Homo sapiens: one gene and its partners. The protein of the gene in region 1 interacts with the protein of each later gene in a pairwise test. Each region holds a gene or a part of one and is shown on either strand. Other genes may lie near its edges.

Region 1 (7,027 bases):
GCGTCTAGAATTGGTTACTCTAAGGCTGAGAATTCCAATACTTTTAATATTTTGCTATATACTTTATTTTCTCACCCGATTCCTTTGCTTTCAGGTTTCAAGTTCTTCACATTTCAAATTCTAGAGGAAAGATTATCAATACTTTACTTACATACTTTATCCTCTGCATATTATTGAAACATTTTCTTAATTACGTTTTGAGATTTTTTTGTTGTGTTAGTTTTGACCAGTACTTCAATTAATATTTATCAATTTAAATTATCATTTCCTCTTTTGATGTAATGTCATCTATGTTAAATAATATAAATTAAATTTCTTTGTAGTATTTACTAATGAACTCATGCCATATGATGCCATATGGCATCAACTCCCTCTAAATATTACTCATTTTCTTCTAAGTTTTTAATGATGTACCGTTAATAACTAGGATCTTTCAGCCAGGTAGACTCTTTAATATCATTTTCCTCATATTCCTCTTTTCTTAATGTATGTTCCACATTCCATGGGGCTAGTGGCATTTTTGCTTTTTTAATTTATGTCACCAAAGAAAATTGTTATTTGATTGGAAGCATTTATTCAAATCTTGTTAAAGCAAAAAGTGTTTAACAAATATAACCCCAATTTAAAATACATCTATCTATATCTATTTCTGATTCATTTTCTATTATGTTCTTTATATAATTCAACGTCAATTTGTTGCCTTTTAGGTACAATATTAGAAACAATTTGAGAAACTTAAAATCTAGTTGGGGAAATAAAACAGCAAAAGTACACAAGTAATGACAACATAATGCTTAATATGAATGTCATTGGGGGTATTACGTGCTATGAGTATTTAGAAAAAAAGATATTAAGAAGATTAGAAAAGGTTTTGTGAAGGAGAGCTGAAATGGGCCTTTGAAATACAGATGACATTTTCATTGATGAGAATAGGAATATCATAAAAGTAATTCATAAAGCTGACATAATGAGCTTAGAAGGAAATCCATAAAATAATACTACTTTAAAGAAATTTCAGGGAGGTAAAATTTCTGAAAACTTTAGACCCTAGTCATCAGACTGTGTATGTGCATGTCTGTCTCTCTCTCCTCTATCATTTGTTTGTTTTTTGTTTTGTGTTTTTGGAGGGGATGGAGTAGTAAAGGACCATAAGGAGATATAACACTGTAGGAAGAAAAAAAAATCTTGGGGAAAATGAAACACTGATACAATCATTACTAAACATTTAAGAATAATATCTTCTAGTGATGGAACACATGCTTTGTGCTTTCCATACATTATTTAATCCTTCAAATGACTACGGTGATTTTTTATAGGCATTTGAAGATGTGGTAACTAAGGCTCAGAGAAATTAAATAATTTGCCCAAGATCACACAGGAAGTGCCTAAGTTACGATTTGAATTCAGTCCTTTTAGATTACCAAACACTTTTATAATTCAGATTTCTAGCAAAGTTGCCATTGTACAAATATGAATGTTACTGAATGTGGGAGGGTAGGGGTAAAAAAATTAGAAGTCTTTCATTTTGTTTTATTTGTGTATATTTTAAAAGTTGACTAATAGAATTTTCAAAGAATTAACATTGCCCCAATGCCCTGTTCTTCTTGGAGGTAGTTTTCATATCATTTGTGTGTCTAAAAGGAGCATTTTAATCTGTTTTGTTATGATTTTGGGTTTTTTTGTTTGTTTGTTTTTTGGGTTTTTTTTGAAAAAAACAAAAAAAAAAACCGGAGATTATGGTCATGCCAATTATAATTGAATAGCCACAGGAGCATTAAAGAAAGTTGTTGAGTTGTTGTCCAAAGATGTCAAAAGTCAGAAAAAATTCTATACAATACTGAAATATTGGATTACTTTTTAAAATTCCATTTTAAGAACAAATATAATTTTATTTCATTTTGAAATAAACTATCCAGCCAATATCTAGAATGTATAATTTGGTAATATTACTTTCTAAATGGTATATAAACCATATATAATTTATGGTCTTGTTTGTTCAGAAACTCATTTTCCTAAACACGATGAAATTTATAAGTTTGGTAGACTTTTAAATAGAATACTTCTGAAATTGTTTTATATGCTTGGAGTTTGAAAACTTGAATAGCTGAATGAAACTATTTTATGAGATCTGATGGAAGAAGCTGACGTTAGTGTGAACATCTTCAGGAATTCTTAAAAGAATTGCACAAGAATTTTAGGTTTAAATTTGAAAATGGTTTGTTACCTAAAACAGATTTTGACACTGTTCAGTAGTTAATTGAAAATAATCAAGTAATTATTATAACTTAAAGTTATTCTAATAGATGTGGCATTTTGGTTAGTTCTATATAATGAGATGCAGTAAGTTTATTTCAGAAAGGAATCATCTGAAGCAGCAGCTTTTTTCATGAAAAGTCTTTACCACTCAATTTTAAGTTAGTGTTCTATACATAACTTCTAGTTGTATGGAAGAGGTTATTCCTAGTGTTATACTTTGTAACAAGCCTGTTATTATGTAGTTGGCCTTGGCAGAATTGTATGAAGATGAAGTGAAGTGCAAATCTTCCAAGTCTAATAGACCTAAAGCCACAGTCTTCAAGAGCCCACGGACACCACCTCAACGGTAAGTTTTATTTTGTTTTGTTGTAAAAAGAAATTATAATCCTTTCTAAAAATTTACTAACTTCAAATTATTTTAAATGGCCTTCTTCAAGGTTTCTTCAATAATTTTTAAAAATTATTATTCCAAGATCGAGGCAGATTTGGATAAAAAATAGAAATGATTAATATCATTTAGGTACTATTAAAACTTTTACAATCAGAAAGCCAAAAGAAACTTACGGAAAAATTACCTTAAAATACCTAATATTTTGGTAGATATCATATGAAATTATATCCTGAATACTATTTTTCTTGGGCACAATGGTTCTTTAATATTTTTTGAGTCATAGGACTCATTAAGGGTCTGATGAAAGCTATAGAATTCTCCTCTCAAAACAACTTTCATGTGCAAGTTTGTCATTCGTTTTTAAGGATATGTGTGTTTCTTGAAGCCACTCCATGGAGCCTCTGCAGGTCTTTTGTCCTCCATTTAAGAATCTATGATTTTTGAAGTCTGTCTCTTCTTCCTTTGGGTGATGATTCCTCTAATGTGTGACCTCCTAAATAGTATTTGTTGTTATTAAAATCCCTGAAGTATAAAAACAACCAACTGTGAAGACTTAAGAGATGAGAACCAGGTGTCTTTTATTGCTGTGAGTTTTCTTGTTGCCAGGAATATTTTCATTAACATCTTTTTAGTACTGTAAATACCATCCCTGGGGAAGAAACGTCAGTTTTCCCATTATATCTTATTCTCAGAAAGTCTATTTTATAAGTTTTCAGTTCATCAAAAAGCAAGACTAGTAGAGTAAATACTGTGTTTACTTCACCTATATTCACCAAGTTGGTACAATGTTACATTGAACTTGTGCACGCATGTATTCTCTCTCTCTTTTTTACTCAACTATTTGAAAGGAAATTGTAGCCATCATGACACTTCACCTCTAGATACTTCAGCATGAGTCTCCCGAGAAGAAGCACACACTTGCAAAATTGATAACACCTTACAAAATTAATAGTAATTCAGGCGGGGAGTGGTGGCTTATGCCTGTAATCCCAGCACTTTAGGTGGGCCAAGGTGGGCAGATCACTTGAGGTCAGGAGTTCAAGACCAGCCTGGCCAACATGGCAAAACCCCATCTCTCCTAAAAATACAGAAATTAGCTGGGCATGGTGGCACGAGCCTATAATTCCAGCTACTTGGGAGGCTGAGGCACAAGAATCGCCTGATCTTGGGAGGCAGAAGTTGCAGAGAGCCGAGATGGCGCGACTGCACTCCAGCCTGAATGATGGAGAAGGACTCTGTCTCCAAAAAAAAAAAAAAAAAAAAAAAAATTAATAGTAATTCTGTGATGCCATTTAATATATAGTTAGTAGTCACATATCTCTTATAGCTTTTTCTTTGGATTTAGGATTCAACTGAGGACATTGCATTGCATTTAATTATTCCTGTTTTGAATTTCTGAATACACAGAACTCTTCCCACCTTTTTATTGTTGTTTTTAGCTCAGCTACATAATCTAAAATTTATTATGTTGACTTTTTTAGAGAGTCTAGGCCAGATGTCTTATAAAATGTCTAACATTGTAGATCACTGTTTCCTCATGATTAGATTTTTATTAGAATTTTTGTCGGGTATGCTAGATAAGTGATATTGTCTGCTATTTATTACATGACAACAGGAGTCATAATTTCAGGATTTTCCACCATTAGTGATATGTTCATTTGGTTAAGGTGCTGACCACCACAGCACTCCATTGTAAGATACTGTGTGTCCTTTGTAATCAGCAGTTTGGTATCTTGACACTAGTTGAACATCCTATTCTTTCATTTAATTCTTACCTTTATACATATAAAATACTGTATTTTTAGCTGCTTCTTTAATTTGTATATTCTCCCAAGTCTTGAAAGTACTTAATATGTATCTCTGTACTTGCATTTTACTCACTATTTGGCCACTGTTTCCCCAGTTTGAACATAAGTTGAATGACTTAATATTTGAGTTCTTATCATAAGATTACTGTATTAATATTTTCCTTGCTATTCAAATATAATCATTAAGATATTTCAGTGAAGGGTTTTCTTTTATGCTGTCTGAAACAATGCTGTGATTAATAGGTATAATTCAGTAATCCAGTTTGTAAGGATTTTGTGCCTCACATTTGATTTCTAGAATAATTTATCTATCAAAAGAACTGAGTTTCCTTAAAATATATAGGTTGAGACGTAAACTGTGTTTAATCTGTTTATAATACAATGTATAGCAGATTGTTCGCAATCTTTTTTTCTACGTATGATATCTTCTAATGCTAAGTGTATACTTCCTTTGATTTCATATTCAATATCGAAATTTTCCCAGTTTCGTTGTATTTCTACAGGTCTGTTTGGTACAGAAAACAGTGCTTATTTTCATGGTCCACCTCCTTGGGCGGTATTTGAAATCAAAACAGTTATTGTCTCATTGTCATTTTAAGCCAAGACAGTTTCATTATCTGAAACTCTGGACATAAGATGGTCTGTGTTTTTAATTTACAAGAGGAGTTACGTAATCTACAGAAAGACCCTCAGGATATAGTCTGATGCCTGTTTTGACATATTCATCCATGAAAAGTTAAATATCACAATCAGAACTTGGATATGTCCTCCACAAGTCATTGTATAGTAGTATTGCTTTGAGAATTAAATGAGATAAAGTGAATAAGATGCCTAGCACAGAGTTGGTACTTAGCTGGGCCTTAAAAGGATTTAAGATATTAGGAGTTAGATAAGCACAGAAGACAAGGGACAAAATTCCAGGAACAGAGAGTCACATAATCAAAATGACCAGAGGAACCAGAAAAAGAACCAGCAGAACTTTAGTAGCTTAGTAGCAAATAAGGTTGGATAGATGGGGGTGCAGCCAGGAAGGCTTTCATAGGCATGTGACCTGTGCTATTGCACAAGGCCCCATGCTTAGAAGGGCCCTGTGCTTGGAGTAATGCTTTGCTGTTACTGTTTTGAAATTCTTAATTGGTTTTGAACAAGGGGACTCGATTTTCACTTTGCACTGGGTCTCACAAATTATGTAGCCAGTTGCGGATACAGCCTTGAAGACCAAGAAGATAAGTTGCCCCTGTGTAGAAGGCAGTGGAAAGTCAATTTGTCTTTTAATAAAAATTTAGTGACAAAACTATAATACAATGTTAAAAGCTTTGACTCAAGATGGATACATCTCAGTTGTAATTTTTTTGTTTTCATATAAGAAAATGGTTTTATTCCTAATTTTTAGTTCCCATACAGTTTACAAATACACTTTTACTCTGATAATACAGCTTTGCAACTAGCAAAGCAGTTGCGCTAACACCCATAAATATAGGTGGGGAGACAATTAACATCCACTAATGTTTCTCTACATAAAGTATTCTTTTAATGTCATTTTTTTAAAAAACAGTTGCAAATAGACTACATAATGTAAGTGGGCAAAAAGGCAATTAAGTGAATCTCTTGAAACACTAAATGTATAATAAACAGCATATTATCAACATTTACATGATTCACATCAAAATGATGACATCCTAAAACATATTCCCTTTAAAAGATTTATCAATAAAATATTAAATATCTTTTAATACTCTGGTACTTCATATACTGCAGGAAAATTAATTGTAGGTCTAGTCATCAGCTTAATCAGGGATCCTTTTCCCATTAGCTTTTATTAATAAAAGAATTACAATTAGGTCACAAATAAACAGACAAATTATTAATTACATGATTTGAGGCTTAGGATGAAAACTTGTCAAAATTAGTTTGATATACAGCAAAGTTATATGACCCACTAAAACCAACTGTTCAATAGTTTTTGCCTTGTGTGAACTGCCTGTAGTGAAAAAAGAACAAATTTTTAATGATGAAAGATACAATAAACTATATTTTGGAACTTTTCAAGAGGAAGAAGGAAAAGCTATTTCAATAAAATTAAGGGCAAATACAGATCCTGACAAAGGCATCCTGACATCAGGGAGGCCATGTGCTTGCTATATGTAAAACTTGATTCCCCCAACAACATACAGAAAATAAAAACTGCACTGGCTTTGTAGTTATGTCTACAGTCTAAGTTTCCCTTATGGATACTAAGCTAAAATAAAACACTTCACAATTGCAAACCTTTCCACATCCCCCTGAACTAAAAATAACTCAAGATATTATTAGTTTTAAAATCCCCAATAAAATTACCTCTAAAAACAATCTTGACCATTTTCTTGACTGTTTCCCCGAAGCAACTGGGCTCTTTAAAGAATGCACACACACCAAGAAAGTCCTACACATGTTTTCTCATCCCCATTTAGCCACATTTCAAAAGACCTTGATTTCAGTGGGAGAGATGACCATAAGTTTCAGGAAGGCCACACACTAGACATGAAGCACCTTTTAGTTTTTTTTTTTTTTAAAGCTATTAAGACTGTGAAAT
Region 2 (7,027 bases), on another chromosome or scaffold:
GAGGCAGTAGCCAGTGAAAAGGCCCTAAGGCATGGTATGCTCAAGAAACAATCAGGAGGCCAGTGAGCTGAACAGGAGTAGTACATGAGATCAAAGAGGTGATGAGATAAGAAGGGAGGCAAAGATGACATAGATCTCTAAAGCCACTGTAGTTTTGAGTTTGCATAAAATGGGGCAAGAATCAGTACAGAGATCTGAACAGAGGAGCCAAACAATCTGACTTGTATTTTTAAGGGATCACGTTGACCTCTGTGATGAGAATAGACTGTAGGGGGCAAGGTGAGAAGTAGGAAGACCGTTTAGGAGACTGCTGCAGCATCTGGGCTAGAGAAGATGATGGTTCATACCAGGGTAGCAATGCGGAGGGAAAGAGAAGTCGAGAGTGAACCTGAGATTTTGGCCTGAACAACTGGAAAGATAGAGTTGCCATCAACTGAGATGGGCCAAGCTGTGGCAGAGAGGATTCCATTTCAGATGTGTTACATTTAAGATGTCTATCAAGCATTCAAGTGAAGATGCAGTAAATAGTAATATACAAATCTAGAGTTTGGGGAGAAAAACCCAGACTGAGATATAAATTTGGAAGTGTCTGACTACATATGGCTTTTTAAAAAATTTTTAAATTTTTATTTATTTATCTATTTTTTGAGATGGAGTCTCGCTCTGTCGCCCAGGCTGCAGTGTAGTGGCGTGATCTCGGCTCACTGCAAGCTCCGCCTCCTGGGTTCACGCCATTCTCCTGCCTCAGCCTCCCGAGTAGCTGGGACTATAGTCACCCACCACCACACCCGGCTAAGTTTTTGTATTTTTAGTAGAGACGAGAGTTCACTGTGTTAGCCAGGTTGGTCTCGATCTCCTGACCTTGTGATCCTCCCACCTCGGCCTCCCAAAGTGCTGGGATTACAGGCATGAGCCACCATACCCGGCCTTACATATGGCATTTTTAAAAATCAGGAGGTAGGATGAAATAATGAAGGCAGTGAATATAGGTAGAGAAGAGACCAGAGACTAAGCCCTGGGGCCCCCCAAAATTAAGAGGCTGGGGAGGTAGAGAATGAGAGACCACCAATGTCCTTGAAAACCAGGAAAGTGTGGTACCCTGGAAGCCGAGAAAGTCCACTGAGGAAGAGGGAGTGATGAGCAGTAAATGCTTCCCATAAATTGAGAACTGAGAACTGAGCATTGGATTTAGCAATGCAGAGGTCATTGATTTTGACAAGAGCAGATTTGGTTAAAATGGAGAGCCAGACTGGAGTGGGAATAAGAATGAGAGAAGAAAAGATGGAGGCAGTTACTTATAGACAACTAGCTCAAATGTTTTTCTACGGAGGGGAACAAAGAAACAAGATGGTAGCTTATAGGAAATGGGATCAGAAGTATTTCATGTTTTTCTGGCTTTGGGTCATATTAATAAAAAGTTAAAGACTGAAAACCACAAAACCACCTAGTATACATGATTTCAATCCTTAATTTTCAAAATTAAAAAAAAATTCTTTTCGTGCAAGGCCATTGATATATAAATATTCAATAGTGGTACCCCTTTAAAAAGTTATTGTAAGAAATGTTAGGACAACCTAGAGATGTGAGACTTTGTTGTTACCTGCGTGTACAGCTCATTTAACCTCTCTCTGTTGCAGGACAGAGAGGGGAGAATTGCTGGAGCAGTGTAGCAAAAAACTTGTGTGACCTTGTGTAGGCAAAAAGAGAGGGTATATTATACCAGTAGGAGGGGATAGGCTTTAGAGAGGCACATAGGAAGCTCCTCTATGGTTAAGAGGTGGGAAGGCAAAGTAAGTGAGTGTGGATGCTGCCAAGGAGATAGATCTGGTGTTGGCTGGTTGTGGATGTCTTCTTTTCCTGAACAAGGAGATAAACCATTATCCCCATTTTCCTCAAAAGAAGAAAGAAGCTCAGAGAGGTTACACAGCCAGTAAGGGGCACAGCAGAACTAAAATTCAGAGTTTCTGAGCACAAATCCAGTTCCATGTGTATTGGAGCTCCCCACTTCCCTGTAGCCTTCAAATAAGTGTGTAGGTGCCCTGGTTGCCAGGCTGGACATTTGAAGGGAAGTAGTCAGCTTTACTCTTGTTTTGGTGCTCACCAAGTATTTTCTCATTCAAACAGAACACATGGACCACTTATAGGATCGAATAAACATCAGTACTAAGGAAAACAAGTCAGTAGGTGATTTCCACGTACAGCCAAGGCTGAGAATCCCGTGGCTGGGGCAGCGCATCTCAGACTTGAAATGCCTGGGAAATCATGTGACCCTGCATATTCTGATTTAGCATTTCTAGGGGGAGGGCCTGAGATTCTGCATTTCTAACAGGATTCCAGGTGATGCTCATGCAGCTGGTCCACAGACTGCACTTCAAAAAGCAAAGAGCTGAAAGGTGGAAACAATCCGAATGTTTACCAACAAGTAGAGAAACAAAATGTGGGATGACCGTAAAAAGGCCATTAACTTTGGGAGGCCGAGGAAGGCGGATAACCTGCGGTCAGGAGTTTGAGACTGGCCTGGCCAACATGGTAAAACCCCGTCTCTACTAAAAAAAAATACAAAAATTAGCCGGGCGTGGTGGCAGGCACCTGTAGCCCCAGCTACTCCGGAGGCTGAGGCAGGAGAATCGCTTGAACCCGGGAGGCAGAGGTTGCAGTGAGCCGAGATCACGCCACTGCACTCCAGCCTGGGCAACAGAGTGAGACCCTGTCTCAAAAAAATAAAAGAAAAGAAAAGGCCATTAAAAGGAATGAAATGCTGACACATGCCACAACTACAACACGGGCAAACCTTGAAAATGTTACGGTAAGTGAAAGAAGATGGTTACATAAGACCACATATTATATGAGTCTACTGATGTGAAGTGTCCAGAATAGACAAATCCATAGAGATAGAAAGCAGATTAGTGGTTGCCAGGAACTGGGAAGATGAGGGAATGTACAGTACCTGCTAATGGGTATAGGATTTCTTTTTGGAATGATGAAAATATTCTAGAACCAGATTGCACAACATTGTGAATGTACCAAATGTCTCTATAGTGATGGCAAATTTTACATTATACGTGGTTTACCACAATAGTAAAAAGAAAAAGAAAAGAGCGAAAAGCTGGATCGTCTCTATGGTTTCTTTAGTTTTGATATTCTGTAGTTTTAAGCACTGAAGTGTTAAGAAAGGTAAACAACTTTCTGCCCAAGGAGAAGGAGAAGAGTTCTTTGGAGAGAAGCCTTGGTAAGTTTCCCAAAGGGGAAATGCTCCATTCTGTGCAAAAGAAGGGAGCAACTTGGCACAGCAATGCACTAAACGGCGCTTAGGGGCTATGGAGGGAAGAACCTGTGAGTGTTCCCAGGCAAAATCAGTCAGTCAGTCAATCACGTAACTGCGCCTCTACAGAGTCCTCTTTTTGCACCAAGCTCTGATGTCAGGAAAATGGAAAAAGTCATGCAGTTTTGCAGGAAGCTCACAGTCTAATAGAGAAGACTCCCACATGGGACCGAAAACAGTAAGACAGGCCCTACTGAGGACCAAATTGCAATGTCCAGGCCATGAAGTTTGGAGATGGTCAGAGGTGATCGGGGGTGTTGGGAGTGGCAAGGGAAGCCCCTTTGAAGGGCTGGGCACAAATGAAGACCAATTTTTGTGTGCTTGATTAGCCTAAGCAAGTCACTAAACTATCTTTTGGAACAAAGCAAAAAATAAATATGGGACCCTTTAATATCCATGCTATGTAAAATTGGGCCCAGAATCTGCCTTTCCTATCACACTTTTCAGAATGTGGATGAACTATTGGCACCATTAGAAAATTACTAAGTGCTACTCACCATATGGTGGAAATACTTATTTTCTGGAATCATTTGGTTGCAATAATGACAGTAGATTTCCCTTTCAGGAGCTGAAATTCTTTCCCCTGAATAAGCAGAGAAACAACACCACAAATGATTGTCCTTGTCAACGGCTAGCCCAGCTCTCCCACAACTGCATACATGGCCTGTGCTCATGAGCACGAACTGCCCCCCGGACCTGCCTGGTCTTGACTTTCCTGCGCTGCCGGCATCCTTGACCACACAGGCAACTCTTGGCCGAATCACCCACATCATTTCCTTTATGGCCACAGATGTGCACTCAGGGCAGCAGCAACCGTAATGGAGAGACATTTTCCTGGATCAGGACTGGTTTCTAAGGAGATGAATGGAGCTGTAGCCACGGATGCCAACCCCCTCCATTCTGACTGTGCTCTTTCATTGCACCAGTTTTCAGACTCTGTGATCAGACCAGGTGTTGGTTGAACACATTTTTGTTGACAGTGTTGAAGCTGTGTTGTGTTGTGTTGTGTTGTGTTGCACTGAAGTTGTGTTGAAGACTGTGTTTGATTCTGTTGACGTCCAGCCATGCTGGGATGAAGGAAATATACATGACTCTCACAATTTCCAGGTTTCCATTGGCCAGTTTTGCCCTTGGGTGGATTGTTTATCAGGAGAAGGTTACTGTCTGGGGAGTTTTAGGCTCTCTCCCATGTTACCATGTTACCAAAACAACTAGCAAAGACACCAAAGGATCTGTCACACTGATGGTTGTGTGACAGTAAATACACCCTCATAAAGAGGTGAGTGATTCAAGTGAACATAAAATGGTACCAGGGAGCCAATACATAGGCCCCCAGGCCAGGAGCCATTGCTAACTCCCTTCTGGCCATTGTTGATAATGGAAAAAGCCCTAGATTCAGTGCCAGGAAGTGCGGGAGTCCAGTCTTATTTTTGCCTCTAGCAAGTCCCTGCTTTATTCTGTGTGTAGGTTTCTCATCTGTAAAAGGATGCAATGGATCTCTGCCAGGCTAGGACTGTGCTAGAGGTGCTCAAAGAAAGCCTCCTGTTTCCTAGGACTCCCCATGGTCCCCCCCTTTTTTTTTTGAGACAGAGTTTTGCTCTTGTTGCCCAGGCTGGAGTGCAATGGCACGATCTCGACTCACTGCAACCTCCGCCTACCGGGTTCAAGTGATTCTCCTGCCTCAGTCTCCCAAGTAGCTGGGACTACAGGCGTCCGCCACCACGCCCGGCTAATTTTGTATTTTTAGTAGAGACGGGGTTTCTCCATGTTGGTCAAGGTGGTCTCGAACTCCCAACCTCAGGTGATCTGCCCGCCTCAGCCTCCCAAAGTGCTGGGATTACAGGCATTAGCCACCCCGCCCAGCCTTCTCCATGGCCTCTTTACTCAACTTTGTGGTAGCTAGGCTCTAGCCCCGGCCTCCTAGTCTCCCTGGACCAGTCATTTGAAGGCCACAGCAGACACACAGGAAGGCCACTCTGAGGCATGGTTTAGAATTAGAATAGCCAGATGAATTGAGATCTATACAGCAAATACACTTGTCATCCGTCCTGTTGAGAGCTTCCCTTCCTTGCATCCCATCCAGGAAAGGCTCTGGCCCTTGGAACGTCTCTCTTCCACCCCAGTTTGTGTGCTTACCTTTCCCGAGCTGGGCCTGTTCACTGCGACAGACATCTCTGTGCTGGGCGAGCATGCGGTGCATGATGAACTGGCCACAGCCTTGGCAGAGCTCTGTCCGGCTGCCACAGTAGGACTCGTGGAGCTCCAGCTTGCTGAGCTGCATGTCCAGTTTGCAGAACTTACACTCAACAGGGCGCTCCTGGCACTCATTGGCCTGTGGGAGGCAGCAGGAAGGGCATGATCACTGGCCCTTTTTTTTTTTTTTTTTTTTTGAGACAGAGTCTCATTGTGTTGCCCAGGCTGGAGTGCAGTGGCTTGATCTTGGCTCACTGCAACCTCCGCCTCCCGGGTTCAAGCAATTCTCCTGCCTCAGCCTCCCAAGTGGCTGGGACCACAGGCGTGTGCCACCACGCCCAGCTAATTTTTGTACTTTTAGTAGAGACGGGGTTTCACCATGTTGGTCAGGCTGGTCTCGAACTCCTGACCTCGTGATCCACCCGCCTTGGCCTCCCAAAGTGCTGGGATTACAGGCGTGTGCCACTGCGCCTGGCCGATCACTGGCCTCTTTGACTGTAGGCAGATCAAGGACTTGTGCCCATCTCCCTAGGGAATTAGGGCCAATACGAGAAAGCAGATGAGAAGGGCCAGAGTGCGGGACTGCCTTCGGGGGATCTGAGCTCTGATGGACTCATGGACCATGGAAAACCCTTCTGATCAGTATCTGGGGGACAGGAGAACCTGTGTTATGCGGTGGGCTAGTTCTCCACTGCTCTCCAAGCCTAATGGGGTGAAAAGAGTGGTCAGGTGGAAATCTCTATTACTGGCCTCCCGTTTCCCCTTCCTCTCCTTTTCTCAGGTTGGTCTATTTGGCTGTAAAGGAGAAATCACATGGGGCTCTTACCTTATGAAACTCCAGCGAGGACTTCTGCATGCTCTGCTGACACATCGTACACCCAACCTAAACACACACACACACACACACACACACACCAGATGTGGGTCCACCCAGCACCCAGGGCCTGCCCCACATCCACTTTGGCTCACAGTGTTCCGGGTTTGGGTCTGTGAACTCCCAGAGGGCAGGGATCCGATGTGGCTACCTCAGTGTCTCTCTAGCACCCCGCCCAGTGTTCAAGAAGTGTTTGTCAGACCAGTCTGAGTTGGCAACGGCTGCCTGAGCTTGAGTATCTCCAGAGAGACAGATCAGGGGCCCCAGGAGGAATGGACATGGAAAGGCGGGAAACAGGGCTCCATCTGACTGCCTTCCAGGACCTTCCTTTTTCACATCCTCTCTTTACAGATCTCAAGAGAACAGCCAGTCTTTCCTGAAACCAGAACCTCTTGCCTATGCCAGATCCATAAGCCTGTAGGGAAAGGATTGGAAATAGGAAAACTGGAGGTAGACTCAGATTAGCATGAAAAAGGCAGGATTAACATTTCCTTTCCATGGGCTTTGTGTGGAGGGGCTAAATGACTTCCCATGGCCCTCAAGTGAGTCTCTGCCTGGGGGACTGGACCCTTGCCTTAAGTCCCCAGCCCTCACCCCAACTCCCGGACCCCATCTCTCCTGCAGGGAGGACTGGAGCC
Region 3 (7,067 bases), on another chromosome or scaffold:
TCTGTTGCAGACATACTTTTCTCTGCATTTCCTTTGCTCCCACACGTCTCTACTCCCAGGGTAAGTCCTTTCTCTTGTTTCTCCATGACTTGGATTTTACCTAATGAGCTCATTTTAAGGCTTAAAATGAGGGATTCTGTGTTCTTTTCTGGAGTCTCAGTAACTGTAACATCAGTAGGGACTCCTGAGAGGTGATCCCTGCCTTTGGAATCTCTCTCATTGCTTAATAATGTTCTTACCCTTTTAACCCCATCACTGACATTCTTTGGAGAAATATGACAATCACCAGTAGGCACATCTAGTAATTTTACTAGAAGTTCCTGTCTTTGGGGATCAATTTTGTCCAATTTGAGATCACCAGAGGTAGTTTGTACATCATTAGGTAGAGTTGAGGAATATTTTCTATCTTGATTTGACAAAGAAGGTTCTATTGAGCCAACCAGTAAAGACGCTCCAGCTTCTGAAGGATTACATCGACTTTCTCCTGATTTAGGCAAATCTTTGGCAAGTTCTCTTTTAGGAGAGGTTTTCTCTGATGCGTAAAACTGAGCCTTGGTTTCTTCTTGGAAAGTAGTCATTGGTTTAGTATTTTTTAACATTTTGAAGGATGGTTGGATTGGATTCTTGATGTCTTTATCTGCCTTTGTAGTAGCTGCTCTTTCCAAACCAACAGCTGGCAGTGGAAAGGTCTTCACTGTCTGTTCTGGTTTGTCCACCACCAACTTAGAATTTCTTTCTTCATTCTCTGTCTCTAACTCTTTCCCTTTAGCTTTAATTAAATCTTTGATTGGTCCTTTCATCTTTTTAGCACGTGGGAGTGTAGCTGGCTTGGACTGATAAACTTTTTGATCAGTAGGTATGGTTGGTCCTATCATCTTACAGTATGGCAAGTGGGATTTTAATCGTTTAAATGGCTTCTTACAGTAAGGACACACTTCCATTCTGGGTGGATTATCACTCATCCTATTCCTGAAAAAGGTAAATGTGAGATTATGAGAAGCACATAGTTTGTACATACCAATATTTTACTTATGTGTTGTATCTTTTAAATTCATTTGGAACAAGCTAGATGTTTGCTACTTACGGTTACAGCAAGTCAACTAGTCATTATATGAGTATAAAAAATTGTTTAAAAACCCTTAAACACGTTATTCAAGGACAGAATGGTAAAGAATAAAAAACTTAGGCCAGGAACCAAAGGTTATTTATTTATTTATTTATTTTGGAAACAGAGTCTCACTCTGTCACCCAGGCTGGAGTGCAGTGGCACAATATCTGCTCACTGCAAACTCCGCCTCCCAGGTTCAAGCAATTCTCGTCTCAGCCTCCCAAGTAGTTGGGACTACAGGGGCATGCCACCACGCCTGACTAATTTTTTGTATTTTAGTAAAGACGGGGTTTCACCGTGTCCGTGTTACCCAGACTGGTCTCGAACTCCTGAGCTCTGGCAATCCACCCACCTCAGCCCCCTAAAGTGCTGAGATTACAGGCGCGAGCTACCACGCCCACGCCCAGCCAAAGGTTACTGATTACAGCAGAGGTTTCCAAAGTGATAAATAGAATATGCACTAGGGTGTAAGAAGAAAATATTAGAATTACCACAATCAAAGAATGAGAAATGAAGCTCTACTAACATTTAGTAATATGCATATACACACACACACACACACAGATATACATAAAATGTATGCATAATGCACAAATATATACATGGCCAAGGACACAGTCCTGTTTTTCACTTATACTTTTTTTTTTTTTTTTTTGAGACAGAGTCTCACTCTGTCACCAGGCCGGAGTGCAGTGTCGGCTCACTGAAACCTCCATTTCCCAGGTTCAAGCTATTGTCCTGCCTCAGCATCCCGAGGAGCTGGGACTACAGGCATGCGCCACCACGCCAGGCTAATTTTTGTATTTTTAGTAGAGACGGGGTTTCACCATGTTGGCCAGGATGGTCTCAATCTCCTGACTTCGTGATCTGCCCGCCTTCGGCCTTCCAGTGTGCTGGGATTACAGGCGTGAGACACCACGCCTGGCCTACTTATAGTTTCTAGTACAACAGATTACTGGCAAATTAGTTTGACATCTTTGTTAAACATATACGATGTAAAAAATTAAAAAAAAAACATTTATACCATGTATATTTGTACCTGTTATTCTTTAGAGTCCAGAAAAGAAAATGTTTAATTCCAATGTTTAGTTGAAAGTTATTTCCTTTCTACATCTCTTATTCTTTCTATAAAGTTCCAGAGGGCAGGAAACATATCTATCCTGCACACAGCTGTATGTAAAAACCTAGCACTGAGCCTGGCATACAATATTTGTTCACTTAATTCTTTAGATATAAACGTTTAAATATTATTCAGTACTACAACTGATAATATCTTCTGACTACCAAAGAGATTAAAAAGGGTGACTGAAACCACTTACAAAATAGACACAATCTTCACCAATCCATTCAATAAAGCAACCAACCCACCTTATCCTGTACGAAGTCCTTCAAAACAAAACTGTTTTCTGCCAACAGATTACAGTAATCATTTTTACTTTGTTGTTGTTTGGTCTTTTTTTTTTTGAGATGGAGTCTTGCTCTATCACTCAGGCTGGAGTGCAGTGGCGCGATCTCGGCTCACAGCAACCTCAGCCTCCCAGGTTCAAACGGTTCTCCTGCCTCAGCCTCCCGCGTGGCTGGGATTACTGGGATTAAGGGCGTGCGCCACCACGCCCAGCTAATTTTAGTATTTTTAGTAGAGACGGGGTTTCACCATGTTGGCCAGGCTGGTCTTGAACTCCTGACCTCAGGTGATCCACCCGCCTCGGCCTCCCAAAGTGCTGGGACTACAGGCGTGAGCCACCGCGCCCAGCCTGCTGGGATTACAGGCGTGAGCCATCATTCTTTCTTTCTTTGGAGGTACACACTAACAGGATGAAAGCCACAGACTGTTTGTTTACAATAATACACACAAATGAAGCCAGTCCATGGACCTTCGGCTAACAACGTTAGGAAGGGCTTGACACCTGCTAGACGTTTCTGCCTCCACTCCACCTCACACTCAACCCTACTTGAAAGATCCCGGTACATTCCCACGATAACGTCTATACGTGGGTGTCTGTTTTCTTACCCGAGCTCCTCCAGGAGGATGCTAGTTTTGTGGGTGCTTCTCCCGGATCCCCATGCTTCCCCGATCACCGTTCCCGAGTGTGGCAGAATGAAACGTGAATGTCAGCCTGTGTAGGACACGATCAGACAGGTGACTTGGCAGCATGCACAGTGAGTAAACGCGGCACGATACTGAACCAAATAGAAACACAGGTTCCGGAAAGCAGAGAGTTAAGACCTCCCCAGCCTCCGGGCTCAAGGAGGACCTCAATAGTTCCACTAATCCTCACCCTCACCTCCGGCGCTCTCCAGCCGCCTTTCCCTCCTCCCGCTGCGTTACCAGCCTGCCCACCTCCCCGCACCCTTCCTTTCCCTGAAAGCTGTTCTGATTCTGCCAGCTGTTCTGATTCTGCGGAGTGGATGGGGTCGGCCCGGCAGCTCCTGGGTCAGGGACAGCCGTTCCCGCAGCCCCACCGAGGATTTCCTCCTGCGGTTCCAGGAAGACCCTCCGCCGGCCCCGGCACCCGATTCCCTACCCTCTCCGCTCAGGAGAGTCTCCCCCAGACTTAGAACGTGGGCCGCGGAAAACAAACCCGCCCTTGCAAGCTCCCCACAGAGCACCGTCCTCACCTCGGAAGACCTGAAAGCCCAGGCGGCCCCGGCGACAAGCCCCCCAGGGAAGCCCCCCAGGCCCCTGCCCAACCCCCGGCCAAGGAACCTCGTCAGGCCGTCTGCACCACTGCCGGATAGGTCCGCCTGTTTTAAAATATGTTACACGGATTCAACTCAAATACTTGTATGATATTATTATGACATAATTGAATTTATTTGAAACCTGGCTTGACTTTTATACCGTACCCTCCGTTGGCTGTGAACAGGCGAGCGCTTCTGCCACCCCAGGGGAGGTCCTTTCTCCCAGAAGCTCCTAGTCGCTCCTCCCGCTCCGAGCCCGCCTCTTCCCGTGGGCGGGGTTACCAGTCGGTGCGGTTGGGATGGTGCCACTGCGCAGCCGCGAGAGGGCGGTACCACGGCGGCAGCGACATGGGGGGGCGCGGAGCAGACGCCGGAAGTAGTGGTGGTACGGGTCCGACTGAGGGGTACTCGCCACCGGCTGCGTCCACCCGAGCGGCTGCGAGAGCCAAGGCCCGAGGGGGTGGGCGTGGCGGCCGCCGAAACACAACCCCCTCTGTTCCCTCTCTTCGCGGAGCGGCGCCGCGTAGCTTCCATCCGCCAGCTGCCATGAGCGAGCGCCTCCGTCCCAGGTGAGAGGGAAGGGACCCCCTTTCCATTCGTCGCCTGAGGATCTGGGAGATAGAGCCGAGGGGGCGCGCGAAATGGGGGTCGGAGCAAGAGTGGACCCGGCGGGGCTCCCTGTGGGGTGCACTGCGGGCCGGGGGAGGAGGGGAGAGGGATGCGCGAGTGATCGGATGCTTGGTTCCTGTGGGTAGCTGGAAGGTGACTCTCCGGGGTCCAGGTCTCCCGCCCCTCCATCTTTTTTCCCCCCTGTCTTTTCCTATTTGGAACGAAGTGTGATCGGTCCCGGAAGAGAGACGGTGGCCCTAAAGCTTTCCTGTCCTAAATTTAGGAGGGTGGGGGGATGGGATAAACGTCTCATCTTGGAGAGGGAGCCCCCAAAGGCTTTTGTGAGGGCACCGGGCGGGGAGCTGCCGGCTCCCCAAGGTCAGAAAGAAAGGTTGGGCTTAACCCCGCAGCAGGGAAAGATTCGGTTAGACCGAAGAACTTGTGCCCTGAACGGTTGTGAACACAGAAGGGCAGATGACCAAGGCGGGTTATGGATCTTCTCTTGACTGTGGCATTAAGAACAAGCTGGATTCTAAACTGTTTGGATTGCGGGGCCGTTTGACTCCGAAGGCGGGAGGAAAGATTTTATCGCGATGCACTCGCTACCTTCCCGAGGGAGCCTGGCCTCGGGACGCGGGTCTTAAATTAGGGGTTCTGTGCTTGACATGTACTACTAGAGTCCGGACTAAGTTGGGATTTCTTAATTTTTTTCTCTCTCTTAATTTCCTCTGCAAGAATGTGTGGAGGAGAAAGTTGGGAAAGGTTACCTCAGAATGCTCTTCCTGTTACGGTCTTTCCACAAGGATCCTTCTCTGAAATAATTATTTCATGTGATTGAAGTTCTCAAAAGTATTCTGAGTTTATTTGGTCCCATAGTGAAAACCTAGGGTTCCCCAAGCTGCTGCATTGGATTATTGATTTGGGTCATGTAGCAGGTGGAGCATAAAGCCTCTCCTTGTATAGAAAAGAAGAGTGGACTAAATTTGAAATTGGGGGCCCAATTACAGACATGCCATCGGAATTAGGAGCAAGATCTTTAGATACAGTGAATCTGACCCGACTGCCATATTATTCTTTCCCAAACCCAGTTTATACTTACGATATTCTCTTGGGGTGTCTCACATATCTGAAAAAAAATCTAAATATTTCCTACAAATAAAAATTCTACTGTACATAACTAATCTGAATGCATTTATACTGGCAGTAGATTCCTTTTATCTTGTACACAAATAATCTCAACATGTTTTAAAGAAGTTATTTGATTTGGACAGGCTTTTCCTGCCAGTGTTTAATGGAGTATGATGGGCCAGCTCTGCCAGCTCTAGGATGGTCTAAGACGGTGGTTTTTCGGCTGGGTGCGGTGGCTCACGCCTGTAATCCCAGCACTTTGGGAAGTCAAGGCGGGCGGATCACCTGAGGTCAGGAGTTGGAGATCACTCTGGCCAACATGGTGAAACTCTGTCTCTACTAAAAATACAAAAAAATTAGTTGGGCCTGGTGGTGGGCACCTTCATCCCAGCTACTTGGGAGGCTAAGGCAGGAGAATCGCTTGAACCTGGAAGGCGGAGGTTGCAGTGAGCGGAGATCACTGCACTCAAGCCTGAGCAACAAGAGCGAAACTTCCATCTAAAAAAAAAAAAGGGTTTTCAGGCTCTCCCACAGTAGATTGGATAGCCGCAGAGAGGTGAGTGTGTAGTGAGGGAGTCCCTGCTTATTGATTGATTGATTGGTTGATTGATTGACTGATTGATTGACAGAGTCTCACTCTGTCGACCAGGCTGGAGTGCAGTGGCCCCATCATGCCTCACTGCAGCCTCAACCTCCCAGGCTCAGGTGATCCTCCCACGTCAGCCTCCTGAGTAGCTGGAGCACAGGTGTGAGCTACCACACCCAGCTAATCTGTGTATTTTTGGTAGAGGTGGGGTTTCACTATATTGCCCAGGCTGGTCTTGAACTCCTGGGCTCAAGGGATCCACCCGCCTCGGCATCCCAAAGTGCTGGGATTACAGATGTGAGCCACCTCACCAGACTGGGAGTCCCTACTTTAACAGATCCTTTATCTCTTATATAGAGAGAATTTTTTTACAGTAAGAAAGAAAGAGTTCTGTTACTTTTTAAAATAAAGTTTGAAAACCACTAGTTTCCATACTCTTTTTTTTTTTTTTTTTTTTTTTTTTTGAGATGGAGTCTCACTGTGTCGGCCAGGCTGGAGTGCAGTGGTGCGATCTCGGCACACTGCAACCTCTACCTCCTGGGTTCAAGCAGTTCCCCTGCCTCAGCCTCCCAAGTAGCTGGGATTACAGGCACACGCCACCACGCCCTGCTAACTCTTTTGTATTTTTAGTAGAGACAGGGTTTCACCATGTGGGCCAGGCTGGTTTCGAACTCCTGACCTCAAGTGATCTGCCTGCCTCAGCCTCCCAAAGTGCTGGGATTACAGGTGTGAGTCACCGTGCCCAGCCCATACTCTTAAGATTATTTCTATGCCGAGTCTCTAGGAGATGACAGGAAGGTTGGAGAGAAATGAAATAATGCAACGTGATGGAATCAACCATCTGTAGAAGTAACAGATGCTAACTGGTAATCTGCACCTAGATGGTTAGGGAAGAATATAATCAGTTATAGGGGTGCCTGCTAAAATCATAACCTGGTCTGTGGCATTAATGCC
Region 4 (7,027 bases), on another chromosome or scaffold:
GCAAAGCAGCTGATGAGAGCAGGAGGCATTTCTAGTGGTTTTCTCTGTTAGACAAGGGGCAGATCTTCTCCCAGTTTAACCTCCTGTGACCTTTGAACTCCCTGGGAGGTCAGCAGCACATCCCCTTCCCCAGCTGTCTCTCTGTCTCTGGCCCAATGGGAGGGAGGGCCCTGGCCCGTTCCATTTTGCACCCGTATTGATCTATTGGCAGCAATGGGATGGATAATTAGCCAGGAATTAGGGTTTCTATTACAGCCAGGAGGCTGCTCCAGCTGATTTATCACCTGAATAATTTACTGTGATTGAAAGGAAATTAAAATGAACTCCATTTGACAACTGTGAGCTTTTATGGGCTTTAGTGAAGGCTCAAAAGCCAGATTAATAGCCTGGTGTTGGTTAATAGTCTGCCGAGAGTAAATACGGCAGGCTATGCTCCGTAGCCTTCCTGTGGCCGCCGGAGGAGGGACCCGCTCCCAACAGGAGCGCTGCGCCGACGACAACGTCAACGGGAGTTTTACTGAAACAGATACCACTGTTGGAAACATACACACACACACGCACGCACATACACACGTGCACGCACACACACTCGCCACCAGCAGCTTTCTTTTCTTTTCTTCCTCCAACGTGATTTTTACTCACTCCATATGTAGGGAAAACAGAATTGCTTTTTCAATAACCGTTTTGAAAAGGAAGTGTTTCATTGCCCAGGCGTGGTCAACATTAACGCCTTCCACCCAGGGCAAAGCGTTTACTACATTTCCCTACAAAAGCCAGCAGCCTGGGCCCACCCACCCAGGTAGATCTTGGCGGGAAAAGCTGCAAGTGGGGCAGGCTCCGAGCTAACAGCAGTAACTGTCAGGACCCCTGCCTGGCCCCAATGAGGAATGTTCTTCCCATGGGAGACAGGGTGGGAGGATCCGGGAGGATGTGGCCTCTCCAAACCTATGGCAAGTTCTGAGAGTTCTGGATGACAGGCAGACTCTGACTGAAATAGGCCAGGTCTGGAAACCAGCTAGCCAGAAAACTGGCCCCTGGAATCGTCCTGGACCTGGAGGCCCATGGAACCATCTTGCATGAGATGAAGACAGAAGACCCTGAGATGAGATTCCAGCTCTGCGGTTCAACAATCTTGGAAACTCCTTGAATAAACAATCTGTGAAAAAAAATGTTCTAGTCTATACAATGGGGCTCCCGAATCATGCCCAGCCTGTTTGGCAGGCATTTGCCTCGGGGGTCCAATGAGAGGATGGATGTGAACGGTCTTTGTGAACTGAACGCTGTGGTGTGTAGGTGAGGAGGATCGCTGTCGTCACGTTCGGTTTCGGCTGCTGCAGCTGTTCTTGTTGTTGTCGTCATCAAAATCATGATCACTTCTACCACAGATATGGAAACTGAGGCCCAGAAAAATAGTGACTTGCTCGGCAGGGCAGAGCTAGGACTCAAATCAAGCTTCCCGACCCCAAGGCCAGTAAGTGCTCTTTGTTCCCCACCAAGCTGCTCAGCGAAAGTGACAGCAAGGCCCCCATCCAGGGCACTAGGCCACAGAGACACACACTGAGACAGCTCAATCTGCTCGAAAATGGAAGAGGCAGCCAGCCTCCGCGGCCAGCACCTCAGGCCCCCTTCCTGTCACCACCGCCATGCCACGCTGGGGCTCACAGGCGAGGCCTGTGGAACATTCACCTCTTGGAGAGCTAGCATGAGGGGCTCAAGGAACCTGTACCCTTGACTGACATCCCTTCCCAGCCTGCGGCCCCTTGCTCAGGCATCATTTGTCCAAAGTGATTGGGAATCGGGCACGAGGGTATGTCATTCATAGTCCAGTGCCTGTGTGTGGGTGCAGGGCAGCCCCGTCTCCTCACCTTCCATCTCTCCTCATTAAAACACATTACAGGGAGGTGAAGCAGATTAACCAGAAAACACTGGGTCAGTCATTATCCTGCCACACAGTTCGCCTGCAGTCGCCGTCTCAGAGCGCACAGTCAGAGACAGGCCTGCAGACGTGCCTGCTCATTCTGAAGGACACTGGAGATGCTGAGTCCTCACAGAGTTTGTAATCAGGTCTCCTCCCCATCAGACCCCATCTCTCCATGAGCCCATGGGACCTGTCCTTCAAGCCCCCCATCCAACACTGCCCCCTCAGTGCCATTGTCCTTGATGCTCCCAACCCAGGTAACATCCCCCTCTCTGGCTGACACCTCATCAGGACCCTCTGAACAGTCTCTCTTGTCCTGCGGGCTCTGAGTCCACAGCACGCTGCCCCTGCGAGACTGGACAGAGCTGATGAGCACTTGGCACTGTGCCTGGCTCCCAGCCCACGTTCAGGGAAGAAGTTAGAGGAGTGGCATGTGAGCAGGTGAGTGAGTGAATCCATGGGCGGCTTCCAGACCACTCAGGGATGAGGTCTTGCAGGCTGCGTGGTCTTCCTGGGCACTCTGAGCTAAAGGAGTTATGGTGCAGATTCTGAGTCTCCATGACGGTCATGTGAAACACAGAGGGAGTCTCACACGGAGTGTCTGTGTGAATAAGGGGTTCACAGAAACACTTGTGCTGCAGAGGCCAGGTGGAGTGCAGAGGCCTGGATCCCCGCTCTTCCCTGTTCACTTGCTGGGTGACCTCAGACATGCCCTGTCCTCTCTCTGGGCCTCTAAAAAAACAACAGGTTGAAATCTTGCCTCTGTGGCTCCTGTTACCCCTAAAATTACATGATCTTGTCAGCCATTAGAAGATAAACTTTCTGGCCGGGTGCAGTGGCTCATGCCTGTAATCCCAGCACTTTGGGAGGCCGAGGCAGGCGGATCATGAGGTCAGGAGATCAAGACCATCCCGGCTAACACGGCGAAACCCTGCCCCTACTAAAAAATAGAAAAAATTAGCCGGGCATGGTGGCGGGTGCCTGTAGTCCGTCCTACTCGGGAGGCTGAGGCAGGAGAAAGGCGCGAACCCGGGAGGTGGAGCTTGCAGTGAGCCGAGATCGCGCCACTGCACTCCAGCCTGGGCGACACAACAAGATTCTGTCTCAAAAAAAGAAAAAAGATAAACCTTCTGGCTGGGCGCAGTGGCTCACACCTATAATCCCAGCACTTTGGGAGGCCAAGGAGGGTGGATCACCTGAGGTCCGGAGTCCAAGACTAAGCCTGGCCAACATGGTGAAACCCCATCTCTACTAAAAATACAAAAAAATTAGCCGGGCGTGGTGGCAGGCACCTGTAATCCCAGCTACTCAGGAGGCTGAGGCAGGAGAATCACTTGAACCTAGGAGGTGGAGGTTGCAGTGAGCTAGGATCACACTACTGCACTCCAACCTGGGCAACAAGAGCAAAACTCCAGCTCACAAAAAAAAAAAAAAAAAGAAGATAAACTTTCTTCCACATTCTGGAGGGAAGGACAGGCCTCATCCAGGAAGGTTTCCTGATCGAGGCCCCTCTCACTCTCCTCCCGTGTCAGAGAAAATGTGCCTTCTGCCGTCTCTCAGAAGGGCTCTGAGCAGAGCAGAGAGGGTGCTTGTGATAGAAACAGACTCTCCTCCCTGAAGTCCAAGATCTAGAGTGTGTGGGGGCGGCTATGCCCAGCACCATAACCATGTCCTACCCAACAGAGGTGTCACTCGACTTGTAAGAGAAAGACTAAAATCCTCAACCCAGTCTACAAGACCAGGCCCACCTCCCCAGCATCATCGCCCGCCCATCCCTGAGCCACAACCACACCGGCTCTCTCCATTCCTCGTTCCTGCCGCCTTCCTCTCAACTCAGGGCCTTTGCACTTGCTGTCCCCTCTGCCAGGCACTTTCCCTCCACCCCCACACCCCTTCTCCTTGCTCCACTCAACCCCTTCAGGCTCAGCATAAATACCTTTCCCCCAGGAGGCCACTGAGGCCTCCAGGCTGGCTCAGCCTTTCCTTTAGGCTCTCAGAGAACCTCAGACACCTCCTCCTTAGCACCAAGCGCACCTGTAACCCATGACCCTTTAGGTAATTCTTCTATTGGGATTCTTCCACAAGTCTGTAGGCTCCCTGAGGGGAGGTCCAAGACCATCTTGTTCACTGATGTGACCCAGTGCATGGCTCCAGGCCTTGCACAAAGTAAACACTCATCATATTTGTTATGTGAATGCGTCTTGCAGCGTGGCCTTAGGCAAGTTGCTCTGCCTCTCTGGACCTTGGTTTTACCATCTGAAAACAAAGTGGCTAGAAGGTCTGTAAGAGCTCTCATAGAAACTGCTCAGACACAGACAGACTGTCATAGATGGGTGGCCCCAGAGGCCCTGCTCTTCCCTCACCACACGGTTCTCTCCAGCACCTCGCCTCTCCATGGGAGCTGTGCAGGGAGGCTACACTGCTTGGACTGACTTTTTGGAGAAGATTCAGAAGCATCCTCTAATTAGCATTTAGAGGAAACTCAGCGCAGCCAGTTCTCACCACTAGTACCAGCGAGGAAAGTGCCGAGGAAAGTTGTTGTCTGTAGGGTCTCTCTGGTTGGCCCACCAGGTGGGAGCTCTTGGCAGTCCAGAGCCATGTCTAGCCTGCAAGGTTACCTGTCAAGGCCCTGGCACACACTGGGTGTCAGGAAATAGTCTTATGAACTGAATCTGATAGTCCAGAGATCTTAGTCAGGCCTCAAGAGCCTCTCACTGGGCCGAGCCTCGTGATCTCATCTCTATAGCCACAGGTAGTGACTACTCTGCCCAGGGTATAGCAGACAGCCGGTCAGCCAGGGCTGGTCCTCCTGCTTTCTCCCTCTCTTGCAAATAACCCAGGTGGGAGTTTGTGCAATGAGACATTTCTTTATCTCCAGAATTTTGGATTCAGTCACTAAGAGAATGACAAGGCGACCTGGTGAGAGGGCAGACAGTGGGATACCCACCCGCTCCGTCATTCCATTGTTCACGGCCGGTGAGCCCCCAGGCCGCGTGCTGGTTACATATTTCCACCATCACCCTGACTGACAAGATACTGACCCAAGACCACCTTACGTGGCCCGAAAGATCATTACACCCTTCTGTCCAAAGAGCCCTTGGAAAGGACACCAGAGCAGCCAGAGAAGTCACCCACCCCCTGGCTGGCCAGCGACAGAGGCACCAGGGCAAGAAGCCACTGGAGGCCCAGACAAGCCCTCCCGACCTTATAGGATGTAGCGACTGCCCAAGTTTGGCCAAGAACACTGAAGAGACCTCTCTGAGCAGAACCTGGTGTGCCCTCACCCACACCCCGCCAGATGCCTCTGCCTTCAGGAACCTGGCTGGGCCGGTGTGGCGGTGGCAGGTGTGGTGGGCGTGCATCACGAGGCGTACCTGCTCGGGCTTGATGGGCTCTGTGGTGGTGAAGATGTCTGAGTAGTGCTGCCTCTCAAACACGCGGTCCAGCACCTCCAGCTGCTGCTGTGTGAACAAGTCTCCCCGCATCTGCTTCCGGAGGAAGTCTCTGCCCGGAAGCGAGTGGCCGTTCGGCACCGGAGACTCCTGAATACCTTTGATGAGCAGGAGAGAGGAAGGGTGAGTGGAGGTTATACACGTTGCTAAAGAAAGACAGGTCAGACCCTGAGACTATGAAGAGGACCTGACCCCAACTCCCTCCCTGACCAGAGAATACACCAGCAGGGGCTCAGGTAAGGCACTGCCTTTCCCAAGGTCACCTGCTGGTAAGTTCAGAGTCAGCCTCCCGCAGCCATGTGCCAGGGACTGTGCAAAGCCCTTTTGACAGGCATCATGTCATCTAATCCTCATGATGACCCTCAAGGTAGGTTATTTTCCCCACTTTGCAGATGAGAAGACTGAGACCTAGAGAGATTTATTGGTTTGCCTGAGGATTCGAGCTTGGGCTGACCCACAGGCTTAGTCATCCGGTGCTCCTGCCCCTCCTGTCCTAAAGACCTTCCCGGGAGGTACAGTTTTTCCCAGAGTTGAGGTCCTTACCCTGGACATTTGCTACCACATCATGTGACCGGTCAGTGAAACACTGTGCTAGGAAGACTGTAGGAAAACGGGACTCTCATACAATTCTGGTGGAAGTGGTAACAACACCTGTGCTAGACAAGTCGACAAATCTATCAAAGCCACAAATGCACATTCCCTTTGATATAGCGATTGCACTTCTGGGAATTTATTTTACAGCTCAACTTACACATGTGAGAAGTGATGTATGTACAAGGTTCTTGTAGCAAAAGACTGGAAACAACCCAAGAGTTTATTTGTGGGGGGTTGGTTAACTCAGCCAGGCATACTTGCATAATGGAAAACTGTGCAGCAGCTGAAAAGGAATGAGGCTTCCTTCTGTGAATTGATATGAAAAGATCTTCAAGATACATTGTTATGTTAAAAAATAAAAAACAAGGTACAGCACAGCATGTATAATGTACAACCTTTTGTGTAAAAAAGGAAGAAAATAAGACGATGTGCAATATAAATCTCTCCAAAGGATATATGAGAAACATTTACAGTGGTTGCTCATTCAGGGAGGTAGGAAGTGAGTGAGTGGAGGTGAGGGGGAGAGACTTTTCATGGCATGTTTTTCTTTGGTTTGGTTTGGTTTCAGAAGTTTGAATGTACTGCTTATTACAAAATGTAAATTAACTAAGTATAAGATTAAATTCCCTCTGTGTTCTGTATTGTTAGCTATTCACACTGTAACAGTCTCTGGTGATGATGCTTACATGTCAAAAGAAATATTACGAATTATCAATAAAGAAACAAATGGGATGAAATATCTTCTGTTGAGTCTCAAGCTTGAACTGTTCAAAATAAAATCAAGCACAGAGGGCAAATGTTTCCCGTGAGGAAATGGCCTCGGGGGTACATCATTCCCCGGGGCTCTCTGGGACCATATTGCTCACGCAAGGCTGACCAGAGGCTTCTTGAAACCCAGGCCCAGAGGTGAGGCATCTGCCTTTGCAGTCAGGAAGCCCTGGGGAAAACCAGCGTGGGTCTGCTCTCATGCTGAAAGGTGCCCTTACTCAAGGCCTTGTCTGACCCCTGCCCCCACCAGTGCACTGCTGCCCTAGACTAGACTTCATCCGTCACGTCAAGCTCC

The links.
Region 2: the proteins of UBXN2B (region 1) and XAF1 interact in binary tests that used the Homo sapiens proteins (3 or more experiments, as listed by UniProt).
Region 3: the proteins of UBXN2B (region 1) and VCF1 interact in binary tests that used the Homo sapiens proteins (3 or more experiments, as listed by UniProt).
Region 4: the proteins of UBXN2B (region 1) and PAX5 interact in binary tests that used the Homo sapiens proteins (3 or more experiments, as listed by UniProt).

What each region holds. Positions count from the first base shown.
Region 1 is NC_000008.11:58,414,352-58,421,378, forward strand, and holds part of UBXN2B (UBX domain-containing protein 2B), read left to right. Parts: intron 1-2,498; coding exon 2,499-2,602; intron 2,603-7,027. UniProt on the Homo sapiens protein: Adapter protein required for Golgi and endoplasmic reticulum biogenesis. Involved in Golgi and endoplasmic reticulum maintenance during interphase and in their reassembly at the end of mitosis.
Region 2 is NC_000017.11:6,759,033-6,766,059, reverse strand, and holds part of XAF1 (XIAP-associated factor 1), read right to left. Parts: intron 6,805-7,027; coding exon of another isoform or gene 6,586-6,804; exon of another isoform or gene 6,399-6,585; coding exon 6,342-6,398; intron 5,655-6,341; coding exon 5,459-5,654; intron 4,175-5,458; exon of another isoform or gene 4,153-4,174; coding exon of another isoform or gene 4,019-4,152; intron 3,906-4,018; coding exon 3,820-3,905; intron 1-3,819. UniProt on the Homo sapiens protein: Seems to function as a negative regulator of members of the IAP (inhibitor of apoptosis protein) family. Inhibits anti-caspase activity of BIRC4. Induces cleavage and inactivation of BIRC4 independent of caspase activation.
Region 3 is NC_000017.11:73,229,378-73,236,444, reverse strand, and holds the start of VCF1 (protein VCF1), read left to right. Parts: upstream 1-4,050; 5' UTR 4,051-4,138; coding exon 4,139-4,359; intron 4,360-6,827; exon of another isoform or gene 6,828-7,067. Other genes in the region: MTNAP1 (mitochondrial nucleoid-associated protein 1), read right to left, coding at 1-962.
Region 4 is NC_000009.12:36,961,257-36,968,283, forward strand, and holds part of PAX5 (paired box protein Pax-5), read right to left. Parts: intron 5,469-7,027; coding exon 5,293-5,468; intron 1-5,292. UniProt on the Homo sapiens protein: Transcription factor that plays an essential role in commitment of lymphoid progenitors to the B-lymphocyte lineage. Fulfills a dual role by repressing B-lineage inappropriate genes and simultaneously activating B-lineage-specific genes.